2 separate regions of the Homo sapiens genome follow, and region 2 is linked to region 1. A link means that fine-mapping ties the variant in region 1 to the expression of a gene that starts in the linked region. Tissue or cell type: whole blood. Region 1 holds a variant in brackets; the other region holds the start of a gene. All regions are shown on one strand. Distances are between the middles of the regions.

Region 1 (8,107 bases):
TCAGGAGCAAGAAACCTCAGGCAGATCGCAAGGGAGGCAGCGCGAGATGCCAGCCTCAAGCCAGGATTTGCGGAGGGTCGATGAGGCCCCTCTCCCAATCTTCACTTCACCAGCCACCACCCCAGTCCCTGCAGCCGCCGCTCTGCCGTCATTTATTTTATTATTATTTTTTAATAGTCGGAGTCTCACTCTGTCACCCAGTCTGGAGTGCAGTGGTGGGATCTCAGCTCACTGCAAACTCTGCCGCCTGGGTTCAAATGATTCTCTTGCCTCGGCCTCGCGAGTACCTGGGATTAGAGGGATTAATCAGAGTCGAGGCTAAAACCAGTCCTGGCCAGGGCATCAACAGGATGGTCTCTGGAGGCCGGAATTCACGGAGGGTCATCCAAGAGGAAGAAACCGCGGGCAGAGGGCCGAAGAAGCAGGGCGGGGTCCCAGCCTCAGGCCTGCATGGACCGTGTGCCAGTGAGTCTTTTCAAAAAAGGAGAGTTTTGCTTGTGTGTCCATGAGCTGCTCTCTCACTGATGGGTCGTAGTTGCGGAGAGCAGAACACGGCAGCTTCAGGGGCTGCCTGGGGGTGAGTGTTACCGTGCCACTGCCCTATGTCTTTTTGCGTTTGTGTGTGTGCGTAAGTCTCTCTCTTATTTCTCTCTCTCCTTTCTCGGTCTTTCGCTCTGTGACCGTCTGTGTGTGCGTGTGTGTGTTGGGACACATGTGCCCTGTGTGCCAGAGGGCGGTATCTTGTACGTCAGCCTTTCTTCTGGTCACCCTCTCCCCGCGTCTCTCCCTGGGTCTTGTGGCCGGTTGTCAGTCGTTTTTCCGGTGGTTCCAGTTTGAGTTTGTGAAGGTCTGGATGAGATGGGGAGCTGCGTCTATCTCATAAGGATTTAAATCACCTCCCCACCCTGAGAGACCTGTTTTCTAGGATTAAGGCCTCCACCCCCGAGCCAAGGATAAAAGCCTCACCGGAGAGCTCATTGTCTACCTGCAGGAGCTGTGTAGAGCGACATCAGAAAAGATTGTTCTCATTTGTCTCTCTCTTTCATCTCCTTAAGAAATCTAGCCACAGGGTAACACAGGTTTTGAGAGGATCAGAACAGGACGTGGCAAGGATCTGTGAGTGTGCAGGCTGTGTTTCACATATCATTAAACATAGTCCAGTGAGGGTTCTGCAGATAGCTGGCATTTAGGTTTGTTTTATTGAATCAAGGAAAAGAAAAAATGCCGAGTAAAAATGACACAACTTGCCTACCAGCCCATCTGAGTGTTACAAATTTAATAGTAATTTTAATTTATCTTCTCATGTAAAGGTCCTTGGCAGTGATACCTAATTTCCTAAGATAGCCTTGCTTTATATTGTTTGATTAAGATGTCATGCATATCAGAGAATCTGAAAATTCTTCCCAATGCCGTCGACATACGTGATTAATCACATTACCAAAATAACATACCAAAACAAACAACAGAAAATTATTTGTTACTTAGTTCCTTCAAATTTGTTTATCTAATTGGTGGTTCCTTCATGCACAAAACGTTTCATGTGTGTCTGGCACTCTTCTGGTCACAAATTTCATCTTAAGTAACCTAAGTATTGAAATGCTTGTGCTCTTTGATTGATTTTTCCTACATAAATACTTTGATAAAAAGCTACATTGAGGCTGGGCTTAGTGGCTCACACCTCCAATCCCAGCTCTTTGGGAGCCTGAGGCCAGTGGATCAGGAGATCAGGAGATCAAAACCATCCTGGCCAACATGGTGAAACCTCATCTCTTCAAAAATACAAAGAATTAGCCAGGAGAGGCCAGGTGCTGGATCATGCCTGTAACCCCACACTTTGGGAGGCTGAGGTTGGCAGATCACCTAAGGTCAGGAATTTGAGACCAGTCTGCCCAACATGGCAAAACCCTGTTTCTACTAAAAATACAAAAAATTAGCCAGGTGTGGTGGCAGGCGCCTGTAATCCCAGCTACCCAGGAAGCTGAGGCAGGAGAATCGCTTGAACCCAGGATGCAGAGGTTGCAGTGAGCTGAGATCATGCCACTGCACTCCAGCCTGGGTGACAAGAGTGAAACTCTGTCTCAAAAACAACAACAAAAAAAAAAAAAAGAAAGAAAGAAAAGAAACCTTGTCTATACTAAAATTACAAAAATTAGATCCTGAAGGTCACATCTGAATGAGAAAGACATTGTTTGCCTCAAATTGTCTGACTCCAAGGAATAGTGCAGACTGGACAAGTGAGGTGACTCACACCTATAATCCTAGCACTTTGGGAGGCTGAGGCTGGTGGATCTCCTGATGTTAGGAGCTCAAGACCAGCCTAGCCAAAATGGCAACACTCTGTTTCTACTAAAAGAACAAAAATTAGCCAGGCGTGGTGGTGCACATCTGTAATCCCAGCTTCTCAGGAGGCTGAGGCAGGATAATCACTTGAACCTGGAAGGCAGAGGTTGTAGTGAGCTTAGATTGCACCACTGCACTCCAGCCTGGGTGACAGAGTGAGACTCCATCTCAGAAAAAAAAAAAAAAGTATGTAAGTCACTAATATATCAAAGAAAACAACCATTCATGTATTGTAAATAAATACTCAACCAAGACAAAAAGACATGTCACATGTTATGGGAAAAGACTGTAATGATGGTGAGAGAAAAACTGTGACCCTTGAATATAAGACAGAAAAAAATCAGGGCACGATGTTAAGGAATTGGAAATAATTCTCTATATTAAAGGAATACAAGAAACAGAAAGAGAGGAGAGAGAGACACGATAGTCACACACTGCAGGGGTTTGGGGTAGATGGGAATCAAGGAGGCAGAGAGAGCAGTGGGAATGTACATAAAATCACCCTCCAGAGCTGTGCTGTCCAACAAGGCTGCTGAACACTTGAAAGATGGCTAGTCCAACCTGAGAAATGCTGTAAGTGGAAAACACATTTAAAAAAATTTCTGAATACTCAGTATAAAAGAAAGAATGGGCCGGTGTGGTGGCTCACACCTGTAATCCCAGCATTTTGGAAGGCCAAGGCAGGAGGATTGCTTGAGCCAGGAGTTTGAGACCAGTCTGGGCAACACAGCAAGAGCTCATCTCTTCAGAAAAAAAAAAAATTAGGCCAAGTGCAGTGGCTCACACCTGTAATCCCAGCACTTTGGGAGGCCAAGGTAGGTGGATCACTTGAGCTCTGGAGTTTGAGACCAGCCTGGACAACATGCTGAAACCCTGTCTTAACAGGTTTTTTTGTATTTTAAAAATACAAAAATTAGTCAGGCGTGGTGGCACATGTTTGTGGTCACAGCTACTTGGGCGGCTGAAGTGGGAGTATCATTTGAGCCCTGGAGGTCGAGGCTGCAGTGAGCCGACATTGTGCCACTGCACTCCAGCCTGGATAACAGAGTGAGACCCTGTCTTAAAAAAAAAAATTAGCTGGGCATGGTGGTGGTCAGGAACAGCCTGACCAACATGGAAGAGCACTGTTTCTACTAAAAATACAGAAGTAGCCAGGTGTGGTGGCACATACCTGTAATCCCAACTCCTCAGGAGGCTGAGGCAGGATAATCATTTGAACCAGGATGGCAGAGGTTGCAGTGAGCTGAGATCGCACCACTGCCCTCCAGCCTGGCAACACAGCCAGACTCTGTCTCAAAAAAAAAAAAAAAAA[TAC/T]ACACACACACACACACACACACACACACACACACACACAATTTTGGAGCGAAGTTTCAAAATAAATCAGTAAGCACCACCCACCAGGTTTATCTTTATGCAAAGTGCCCCCTCTGCACATGCAGGATTAAATGAACCTTGAAAATATTATGCTAAGTGGAAGAAGCCAGTCATGAAATATCACGTTATGTAATTCCATTTAAATAAAATGTCCAAAATACATGAATGCATAGAGACAGAAAGTAGATTAGTGGTGGCTCAAGGTTAGGGGAGTTGGGGGAAATGGAGGGATATGGGGTTTACTTTGGGGTAATGAAAATGATCTAAAATTTATTGTGATGATGTTTGCACAACTGTGCAAATATACTGAAATCATTGAATTTTACACTTTAAATGGGTGGCTTCTGTGATATGTTAATATTTCTTAATAAAACTTCAGAGAAAAAGAGTACCTGTGTGCCTCCAGAGTCCACATTTTTACACTTGATGATGAAATCAAGATATTGTTTCTTCTTCTTCTTTATTTTTATTTTATTTATTTTATGTTTTGAGACAGTCTCCTTCTGTTGCCCAGGCTGGAGTGCAGTGGCACGATTTCAGCTCACTGCAACCTCCCAGCTAATTTTTGTATTCCCAGTAGGGATTGTGGTTCACCGTGTTGGCTAGGCTGGTCTCGAACTTCTGACCTCAAATGAGTCCACCATCTTGGCCTCCCAAAGTGCTGGGATTGCAGGCATGAGCCACCACACCTGGCTCAAGACTTAGTTCCCATTGTTTCAGATGCCCTAGGACCATTTTATTCTACTTTAATTTCTGATGCATCGTCTCAGTGGAAATTTTACATTACTTCCCAAAGTATTTTACTCTTTTTAAGATCTTATCAGCTGAGTGCAGTGGCTCACACCTCTAACTGCAACATTTTGGGAGGCCAAGGTTGGAGGATCAGTTGAGCCCAGGAATTCAAGTCCAATCTCTGCAACATAGTGAGAAGCCCATCTCTACAAAAAAAAAAAAAAAATGTTTAATTAGGTGGGTATATTGTTGCATGCCTGTGGTCTCAGCCAGTAGGTAGGCTGAGGTGGGAGGATCACTGGAGCCCAGGAGGTTGAGGCTGCAGTGGCCATGATTATACCACTGCATTCCAGCAAAAATATTTTTAATTACATTTTTTAAGAAAACAAAATATACACTTACTGACTTGATACAAATGAATGACTTTTATAATCTACAGAAACCAAAAAAATAACAATAATAAAAACCCACAGCCATTCTTCTTATGTGAGACTCTGGTGTCTCTGAGTTGTAAGAATTGTGAATTATGATTAATAACAAATATGCATGACAAGGACCCAATAAGAGATAGGCATTGATAAATTGCAAATCACACTTACTGGAGTAAGGTCTTTAAAGTTGTACAAGAAAAAGAAAGAAAAAGAAAAGGCATTGAAAAACTGCATTGGCTACCAAAATGCTAAAGTTTACCTAAGTCCATTAATCAGCACACACACACACACACGCAATGGATGTGTAAAATGGTCAACATGGTATTCCATGAACGTATCCTCTTATAAATAGGTCTGTGGGGGTAAGAGATGAGGTTCTATAGATCCTGGAATCAGGGATGGGGAATCTGTGGGGTCCCTGGGGTGAGAGATGAGGGTCTGTAGATTAGTGATGGGTGGTCTTTTGGATAGTGATGAGATCCATGGAATCAATTCTTGTGGGTATGTAGGGTCAGTGATGAGGGAATCTGGTGTCAGTGGCGGGATGTGTGTGGAATCAGTGAGAGAGTGTGGAATCAATCTGTGAAGGCCAGATTTGTGGTGTCATCTCTCAGGCTGACACATCCTGACCTGTGTGACAATGGTGGAAATTCTATGGGGTCAGAGTGTGACAGTCAGTTCCTTGCCACTGGGTGTTCTGGGTCCGGCCAAGGGCACAGATTCCCTTACCTGATCCTGGCTGGAGAGGCCCTTCTCACGGACTCCTCATGTGAAAGATGGGTTGTCGGCGGTTTTGGTTTTTGTTTTATGGTGGGGGTGGGTGGGTTGGCTTTTCCTTTTGGGTTTGGTTTTGCCTCTTAGAGACCACAGACACATCCAGCTTTTAGGAAGACATTTTTGTCTGGGCGATCGCTAGTTCCTTTGGGCCAAGCCATCTAATGGGAATGAAGCTGACCATTCCCTCAGCGCAATTCAGATCTAGATGGTCGCTTTAAGGGGTCCACTCGGGGGCATGCAAGTGGGTTGTGGCTTTGAGTGGCAGGTGGGCGGGAAGAAACAACTAAGAAAGACACACGAGAGGTCCTCAGGCTTGATCTGTCACAGCTAGAAGAACAGCTTCCTTAACCCATCAGGCGCCAATGGGAGGTGCCTCTGGGCTGCAAGAGGCTGGCAGAGGGGGACTTCCAGACCCAGAAAGTCTGGGCACAGAAGCCTATTACTGCCAGACGCTGAGGAGTTGCCGTGGGAACCAAGGGCCTTTCGGGCCAGATCAGAGCCTTTCTCAGACAATTCTTTGGGTAACTGGCAAGCTCCTGTCCAGCGCACACCCCTATGAATGCTTAGTGTGCCATCTCGGGCAAGTCTTCTTTGGTCTGAGAGCCACTTGTTTCTTAAATCCCTGCGCTAATCTCGCCGTCTGCTCCTATGTAGCCCAGGCATTTGCCGCATGCTGGTCCTTTCTTTCCTGACAGGCGGGCAGTCTCCCTCCAGCTTCTGGGAGGACAGTTCAAATTATGGAGGAGGGGGTGCATGTAGGGCAGCAGTGCCCAGGGGAGTATGGGGGAGTTGGGGGAGCAGAGGCTCATTTTTCTTTATAGCTCAGATTCCCAAGCCTGTGACTTTGAGAATCTTTGTCTTCCTTGCAACATTTCAATCTGAGGCTCTTGTGGAGAGGGCAGAGTTGGAGCCAGATGGAAGAGTGGTGGGAGAGGAGTGGGTGGAGGGAACATGGAGAATGTTTCAGGTGGTGTCTTTATTTCTGGCACCTTACTTTGCCTACTGGAGTTTCCCAGTCTGTTCCAGACGCCCTCTCTAGACCCTGAGAGGGCCTGAGGAGGCATGTTAGTTGCCAGTGTGGTGGAGATGGAGTGCCGGGAGGTGGAGGTTGCAGTGAGCCAAGATCACGCCACTGCACTCCAGGCTGGGTGACACAGCGAGTCTCTGTCTCAATAAATAAATAAATAAATAAACAAACAAATGGAAGGGAAAAAACACAATATAAAAACCAAGTGATTCTAAAAGTAACAATATATCATAATGCCTAAATATGTGTAATTGGTGGGGCATGGTGGCTCCGATTATCATAATGCCTAAATTTGTGGGATTGGTGGGGTGTGATGGCTCCCACCTGTAATCCTAGCACTTTGAGAGGCTGGTGGATCACCTGAAGTCAGGAGTTTGAGACCAGCCTGACCAACATTGTGAAACCCTGTCCCTACTAAAAATAGAAAAAAATTAGCCAGGTGTTGTGGCGGACACCTGAAGTCCGAGCTACTAGGGAGGCTGAGGCAGGAGAATCACTTGAACCCAGGAGCAGAGGTTGTAGTGAGCCGAGATTGCCCCATTGCACTCCACCCTGGGTGACAGTGTGAGACTCCCTCAAAAAAAAAAGTTTGTGGGACCAATTCCAATCGAGTCCAGGGGTCTCAGTTGGCCAAGGCAGTCTCAAACTTCTGACCCCAAGTGATCTTCCTGTTTCGGCCTCCCAAAGTGCTGGGATTATAGGCGTGAGCCACCATGCCCAGCCTCCCCTCCTTTTCACTCAGGGATTTTAAATGTTTTATTTGCTCCATCTGTTATGTATGATTGCCTTGACGATTTCAGCTTGAATTAAAATTACATATTTTTGCCTGTGTTTATTAATATTTAAACATATTAAAATAATACATGTTCATAATGAAAATGAAACATTACAAATAAATACACAGGAAAGGCAGTATTCCCCTTCCAGCTCCACTCTTGAAATAACCAGTTAACAAGATGATGAACATCTTTCCATGATGTTCTCCAAGATTCATATAATTATTTGCAATCATACAATGGCATATACAGCTCAGGTGTGGTGGCTCACGCATGTAATTCCAGCACTTTGGGAGACTGAACCGGGTGGATCATTTGAGGTCAGGAGTTCAAGACTACCCTGACCAACATAGTGAAACCCCATCACTACAAAAAACACAAAAATTATCTGGGCGTGGTGGACGCTTGTATTCCAAGCTACTTGGGAGGTGGAGGCATGAGAATCACTTGAACCTGGGAGATGAAAGTTACAGGGAGCCGAAATTGCATTACTTCACTCCCACCTGGGCGACAGAGTGAGATTCCATCTCAATAAATAAATAAATAAATAAAGATAAAGAAAGAAAGAAAAAAAGAAAGATGAAAGAAACAAAGAAAAAAGGAAGAAAGAGAGAAAAAGACAGAGAAAGGAAGCACGAAAGCAAACAAGC
Region 2 (8,107 bases), 410 kb before region 1:
AACAAAACTTTTTGCTTAAGTCCTAACTATTCCTCTATAAAGTGCTTTCTTTCCAATTTGATGGAGTTAAATGTTATCTGAGGTCAGGTGTGGTGGCTCATACCTGTAATCCCAGCATTTTGGGAGGCTGAGGCAGGTGGATCACTTCAGCCCAGGAGTTGGAGACCACCCTGGGCAAGACTCCCGGCTCTACATTAAAAAGAAAAAATCTGAAGTCCAAGTTCCTTGGAGAAGGCTTGCTATTTTCTCATTCTACAAAAAAGAGTTATCCTCTAATTTTTATTGCACCTGAACTTTACATAAACACACATCCCACTTTTATTTGCCAATACAGATCAATTCAATCTGTCATCATTTAAACCACTAATGGATGATGTATAAGTCAAACAAAAGGGACAAGCATGAAAGTAGACTGCTTCTCTAACACCTGAACATTTTCCTTTTAATATACAAGCATTCTTGCACACAGTTCATAAAACTGCTAGGCTGCTGATTCAGTGTTCTGTTTAACAGATGAGTTTTAACTACTTAAAAAAAAAACAAACTCTGCTTTCTACAACTATCTGATCTTCGACAAACCTGACAAAAACAAGCAATGGGGAAAGGATTTCCTATTTAATAAATTGTGCTGGGAAAACTGGCTAGCCATATGCAGTAAACAGAAACTGGACTCCTTCCTTACACCTTATGCAAAAATTAACTCAAGATGGATTAAAGACTTAAATGTAAAACCCAAAACCATAAAAAACCTAAAAGAAAACCTAGGCAATACTATTCAGGACATAGGCATGGGCAAAGTCTTCATGACTAAACACCAAAAGCAATGGCAACAAAAGCCAAAACTGACAAATGGGATCTAACCTAAGAGCTTCTCCACAGCAAAAGAAACTCTTCAGAGTGAACAGGCAACCTACAGAACGGGGTAAAATTTTTGCAATCTACCCTTCTGACAAAGGTCTAATATCCAGAATATAGAAGGAACTTAAACAAATTTACAAGAAAAAAACAACCCCATCAAAAAGTGGCCAAAGGAAATGAACAGACACTTCTCAAAAGAAGACATTTATGCAGCCAACAACATATATTAAAAAAAAAGCTCATCATCACTGGTCATTAGAGAAATGCAAATCAAAACCACAATGAGATACCATCTCACATCAGTTAGAATGGTAATTATTAAAAAGCAAGGAAACAACAGATGCTGGAGAGGCTGTGGAGGAATAGGAACGCTTTTACACTGTTGGTGGGAGTGTAAATTAGTTCAACCATTGTGGAAGACAGTGTGGCGATTCCTCAAGGATCTAGAACCAGAAATAACATTTGACCCGGTGATCCCATTACTGGGTATATACCCAAAGGACTATAAATCATTCTACTATAAAGACACATAAACGTGTATGTTTATTGCAGCACTATTTACAATAGCAAAGACTTGGAACCAACCCAAATGCCCATCACGGATAGACTGAATAAAGAAAATGTGGTACAGATACACCATGGAATACTACGTAGCCATAAAAAAGAATGAGTTCATGTCCTTTGCAGGGACATGCATAAAGTGGGAAGCCATCATTCTCAGCAAACTAACACAAGAACAGAAAACCAAACACCGCATGTTCTCACTCATAAGTGGGAGTTGACAATGAGAACACATGGACACAGGGAGGGGAACATCACACACCTCACACATCGGGACCTGTCGGGGCGGGTGGGGGGCAAGAGGAGGGAGAGCATTAGGACAAATACCTAATGTATGTGGGGCTTAAAATCTAGATGACGGGTTGATAGGTGCAGCAAACCATCATGGCACATGTATACCCATGTAACAAACCAGAACGTTCTGCACATGTATCCCAGAACTTAAAGTAAAATAAAATTAAAAAACAAAAACAAAACAAAACAAAAACTTGGCCGGGTGCAGTGGCTCACGCCTGTAATCCCAGAACTTTGGGAGGCCGAGGCAGCTGGATCACCTGAAGGTCAGAAGTTCGAGACCAGCCTGGCCAACATGGTGAAACCCCCATCTCCACTAAAAACACAAAAAATTAGCTGGGCGTGTAATCCCAGCTACTCGGGAGGCTGAGGCAGGAGAATCGCTTGAATCCGGGAGGCAGAGGTTGCAGTGAGCCGAGATGGCGCCATTGCACTCCAGCCTGGGCAACAAGAGTGAAACTTCGTTTCAAAAACAGCAACAACAACAAGAACAACAACAAGAAGAACAAAAACTCTGCTTTTAAAAGTATTTTAAGTCCAGTGTGAAAAACCTAGAAGTCACAGCAAAGGCCGCTAAGAAACTTACCATTACTCATGACCCCTCTTACTACTGACCTTGAAAATCACTTGCCCTTCTCCAAGGCCCCGCCAGCTTCATGGGTCTCTTCCTGAACCTCCTCCCTAGTTCCAGGGCTTGGCCTAAGTCTCACAGAGCAGAAAGAAACGTGGCCACCCTTCCTCACGTGAGTCCTGTGCAAACATACAGCCCCACACAGAGCTCCTAACAATGGGGCATCAGTACCCAGGCACGATCGATGATTATGAACCCAACGCGATCAGAGACTCCCACATGGTGTGTGTGACTGCGCGCACAGGCGGGAGGAAAGGGGCGAATCTGCAAAACGAGTACAACAGATAAAATTCGCAACAGACTTCTACACCCTTTCAATCAACCGTCCCAAGCGCCACGAACGCGGGTCCCGCTCCGTGGGGGGCCGCAGCCACACTGGCAGGAGGGAATCCTGGGCCTCGACCAGACGCCGGCGGCGTCAGGAGAAACGGCCCGCGCTGGGCAGGCGGCGGGCACCGCGTAGCTCATTACCACGGGGGGCCCCGGCCAAGGCCGCCCGCCTCAGGCCGAGCCTTGGGGCTGTGCTGGACCCGGGCCCTCGTTCGCACGGCGCCCGCGCCGCCGCCGTCGGGAAACCGGGTTTTCAAGCGTTCGGCCCAGCGGGCGCTGTATTTTAGGGCGTGACCCCCGCCCCGCCCTCGAGGGCGACCGGAAGAGCAGGCACCACAGCAGATGCGCCGAGTCTGCGCCCCGCACCGCGAGGAGCACCCGAGGCCGCGCTCCCGGAGCCGGGTCTGGTGACTAAGGCGCGGGTCGCGACGCAGGGGCGGCCCCGGACTCTCGACCCCACCAGCCGCCTGAATGTCCCGCCGGACGCCCGGGCCGGCTCACCTGGGAGGCGCCTCCGCCGTCCGCCCGCGCGGGGCCAGGAGCGCGGCACCACCCCCGTACCGCCGGCCGCTCTTTGTGTCTGGAGGCCGCGACGCAACACTCCTCCCGGCCTCGAGGCACCGCCCCCTCGGTGTCCCGGCGCAGTGGGCGAACAGGGGGCGGGGCGAGCGAACGGGAGAGGGGGCGGGTCGGGTCCGGGATTGCGGGGCGGGGTGGGGGCAAGGCGGCCTCCGCAAATCTCAGGGCGGCTCTGGCCAGTTTGGAGCCTGGGGTGACCCTTGGAGCTGACCTCGCTGGTCCCTGTCGGAGCCCTGCGCGCTGCGGAGCTTGGCGGTTCGCAGCTCTCGGGGTAGCATCTTCTGGAAACAAGCCCGGAGGCCGGCCAGGCAGGGGTAATACCCCAAACCCACCACTGAGGAAACCGCGACTTAAAACCTAGGTCGTCACGTTTCCACCGCATATTAAATCAATACGGGTTGAGCATCCCTAATCCAAACATCTGAAATCCGAAATGCTTCAAAATCTGAAAGTTTTTGAGCGCTGACCTGATGCTCAAAGGAAATGCACATTGGAGCACTTCTTTTTTCTTCTTTTAACTTTCTTTTCTTTTGAGAAAGGCTGTCACTTCTGCTGCCCAGCCTGGGATGCAGTGGCGCGGTCATGGCTCACTACAGCCTCGACTTTCCCGGCTATGGCGATCCTCCCGCCTCAGCGTCCCAACCCCCAGTAGCTGGGACTGCAGGCATCTGCCACCATGTCCGCTAATTTTTGTATTTTTAGCACAGAGTCTCACTGTGTTGCCCAGGCTGGTCTCGAACTCCTAGGCTCAAGGGATGGATCCACCGCCTCGGCCTCCCAAAGTGCTGGGATTACAGGCGTGAGCCACCGCGCCCGGCCTGTATTTTTTTAAGAGAGGAGGCTTCACCATGTTGCCCAGGCTGGTCTGGAATTTCTGGCCTCAAGTGATCCTCCCACCTTGGCCTCCCATAGTGCTGGGATTACTGGCATGAGCCACCGCACCTGGCCTCATTGGAGCATTTCTAATTTTGGATTTTCAGATTAGGGGTGTTCAATTGGTATAATGCAAATATTCCAAAATCTGAAATCCTAAATGCTTCTGGTGCCAAGCATCTCGGTTAAGGGATATTCAACCTGTATATATTTATCGAACACCTACTAGGGCCAGGCATTGTCCTAGGGGCTGCCAACAGCGGTGCAAAAAATCCCTGGCCCTTATAGAGTTTACACAGAAAACAATTTAAAAACGTAAATACCCGGCCGGGCATAGTGGCTCATGCCTGTCATCCCAGCACTTTGGGGGGCTGAGGCAGGCGGATCACCTGAGGTCGGGAGTTCAAGACCAGCCTGACCAACATGGAGAAACCCCGTCTCTACTAAAAATACAAAATTAGCCGGGCGTGATGGCATATGCCTGTAATCCCAGCTACTCAGGAGGCTGAGACAGGAGAATCGCTTGAATCTGGGAGGCGGAGGTTGTGGTTATCAAGCCACTGCACTCCAGCTTGGGCGACAGAGTGAGACTCCATTTCAAAAAAAGAAAAAAAAAAGTAAATACAGCCAGGCACGGTGACTCATGCCTGTAATCCCAGTAGTTTGGGAGGCCACTGTGGGCAGATTGCCTGAGGACAGGAGTTCGAGACCAGCGTGGCCAACATGGTGAAACCCAGTGTCTACTGAAACACAAAAAAATTAGCCAGTTGTGGTTAACGCGCGCCTGTAGTCCCAGCTACTCGTGAGGCTGAGGCACAAGAATTGCATGAACCCAGGAGTCGGAGGTTGCAGTGAGCTGAGATCTTGCCACTAGACTCCAGCTTGGGCGACAGAGCAAGACTCTGTCTCCAAAAAATAAAAATAAAAACATAAATATACAAAAATGTCAGAGAGTTATATCAGAATTACAAAATGAGCTACAGTACACTGTAGCATGAGAAAGGTGCATATACTTTGTAGGAACTCCACTTTAGAGGATGTGAGGATCAGAGGCAAAATGGGGTGAGAAGGAAGCAGGATGAAAGACAGGCTATGGGGGAACGGAGTTTCCAAGGGCGAGTGAAATTTCCAAGTGCCTGCAAGTGCTAAACCCCATGCAGAGCAAAAGGCAAACACAGGGAGTGGTTCAGAGACGCTCATAGTGTGTTCTAGGCTGGGAGGTTTCTCTGACCTGCTGAATGTGCCCAGATACCTTTTGCTATGCCCATGACCTGTCCCAACCAGTGTGGGGCACAATGGCAGGACACACCGTGCAAAGGTGGTCCCTGTGGGATGCGCAGCCAAGACCCCGATGACTCCAGTTTATAACCCTGGATTCCCAGGGGTGCTCAGAGCCATGGGGGCTGCCATTGTGAAGAATGTCTTCTCTTCAGTGCTCCTGATGCTCTGCACGGGCTCCCACTCACTGGCTGGAGAATGAATTTGGAGTCAGAAGATGTGAATCATGCCACTTACTAGCTGTTTGACTGTGGATCACCCAGTCATGTAACATCTGTGATCTCAGTTTCATTTGCAAAATAGAAATGTAAAAATTACCCATTGCACAGGAGTGTACTGAATTTATTTGTTATTTTATTTCTTGAGACAGGATCTCAGTCTGTTACCCAGGCTGGAGTGTGGTGGTGTGATCACAGCTCACTGCAGCCTTGATCTCCTGGGCTCAAGTGATCCTCCCACCTCAGCCTCCCAAATAGCTGCATTACAGATGCACCCCCACACCTGGCTAACTTACTAATTTTTTGTAGAGATGGGGTCTATGTTGCCCAGGCTGGTCTTGAACTCCTGGGCTAAAATGATCCTCCCACTTTGGCCCCCCAAAGTACTGAGATTGCAGGCATGAGGCACCGTGCCCAGTTGAGCATACCGAATTTAAATGAGTTAATGTAGTGGTTCTTCATCAGAGAGAAGTGGGAAGACTAGGAGTTCTCCACTTTGACTACTTAAAAATTAAAAACACCAGTGCCTGCATCCTACCTCCAGACATTCCAATTTTATTGTCGTGTAGAGAAAACTCTCCACTCTCACACCGCACAACAGTCAACACAGAAGACCTATGACTAAATGTGTGTGGGGTTTTCTCCACACACTGAGCAGCAGACACCAGCTGGGCATCCTCTAATTCAGTTCTGTCACTACCTGGAGAGAGTGTCAGATCCCACAAGTTGAGGACTCAGTCCCCAAGACTCCTCACATACATCAGTTGCAAGGCCGGGCCTCTGCAGAACTTCTGACAGATCAGCTTCAAGTTGGGGTTCCCATGACCCCCTGACCCCCTGTTTGGTTTCGATTAATTTGCTACCTGTGAGTGGCTCACAGAACTCAGAGAAACGCTTATGTTCACTGGTTTATTTTTATTTATTTATTTTTGAGACGGAGTGTTGCTCTGTCGCCCAGGCTAGAGTGCAGTGGTGCGATCCCAGCTCACTGCAACCTCCGCCTACCAGGTTCAAGTGATTGTCATGCCTCAGCCTCCCAAGAAGCTGGCACTACAGGCATGCGCCACCACACCTGGCTAGATTTTTATATTTTTAGTAGAGACAGGGTTTCGTCCTGTTGGCCAAGCTGGTCTCGAACTCCTGACCGCAGGTGATCTGCCTGCTTTGGCCTCCCAAAGTGCTGGGATTACAGGCGTGAGCCACCATGCCTGGCCCACTGGTTTATTATAATGGATATTGTAAAGGACACAGGTGAAGAGACACATAGGGCAAGGTTTGGAGGAAGGGGCAGAGCTTCCATACCTCCCTGGGCACCACCCTCCAGGAACCTCCACTGTTCACCTACCCAGAAGTTCACTGAACCCTGTCCTCTTGGGGTTTTATGAAAGCTTCATGATATCAGCATTCCTTCTCCCAGGGAATAGGGTGAGACCCTCTCATGGGAGAGTCTTAAGACCTGCAATCGACGGCAGGGCGCGGTGGCTCACTCCTGTAATCCCAGCACTTTGGGAGGCCGAGGTGGGCGGATCACAAGGTCAGGAGATCGAGACCATCCTGGCCAACATGATGAAACACCATATTTACTAAAAATACAAAAATTAGCTGGGCGTGGTGGCACACACTTATAGTCCCAGCTACTTGGGAAGCTGAGGCAGGAGAACCGCTTGAACCCGGGATGCGAAGAAGTTACAGTGAGCCAAGGTCGCACCACTGCACTCCAGCCTGGGCAACAGAATGAGACTCCATCTAAAAATAAAATAAAAAAAAAAAAGACCCACAATCAGAAAGCCAGGAGGAGGTCAGGGGCCTGCCCATGAGGCCCAACACAACAATATAACAAAGGACTGTAGCAAGGGCTATGGGAGTCATGTGCCAGTAACTGTGGATGAAAACCAATGGATATCCTGACACCACAATTGTTCAGGAAAGAACCTTTGAGTCAATCTTGACTCTCTCTCTCATACCTTACAGCGACGTCATCACATCCTGATCGCTCTTCTTTTTAAAAACATTTTCTTGGCCAGGCGCAGGAGAGGCCGAGGTGGGTGGGTCACCTGAGGTCAGGAGTTCATGACCAGCCTGACTAACTTGGTGAAACCCCATCTGTACTAAATACAAAAGAAAAACAGCCGGGCATGGTGGCGCGTGCCTGTAATCCGAGCTACTTGGGAGGCTGAGACAGGAGAATTGCTTGTACCTGGGAGGTGGAGGTTGCAGTGAGCAGAGATCGCGCCATTGCACTCCAGCCTGGGCAACAAGAGCGAAAATCTGTCTCACAAAAAAAGAAACAACAACAAAAAAAACTTTTTCTTTTGAATTAATGTTATCTTTACAGAAAACTTGGAAACGTAGAAAAGAGAGGTTCCATATTCTTCTCACTCAGGTCCTGTAAATATCAGCATCTTACATATCCCTGTTTTTTTTTTTTAAAGTTTAAAAAACTTTATTAAGTATAATGTACACAAGAAAAGTATACATATCATAA

Evidence for each region. PIP is the estimated chance that this variant, and not a neighbour inherited with it, causes the effect.
Region 2: it holds the start of NINL, and the variant in region 1 is fine-mapped to the expression of NINL in whole blood (INTERVAL, PIP 0.95).

What each region holds. Positions count from the first base shown.
Region 1 is chr20:25,991,529-25,999,635 of GRCh38, forward strand. No RefSeq gene overlaps it. Among named protein-coding and RNA genes, the nearest start is that of LINC01733, 40 kb to the left of the region's middle. RefSeq lists a silencer at 7,845-8,029. The variant TAC/T (reference allele first, on the strand shown) is at 3,653.
Region 2 is chr20:25,582,280-25,590,386 of GRCh38, forward strand. NINL (ninein like) reads right to left here and starts at 3,252. Exons shown (of 24, transcript NM_025176.6): 1 at 3,176-3,252. RefSeq lists a silencer at 3,187-3,316.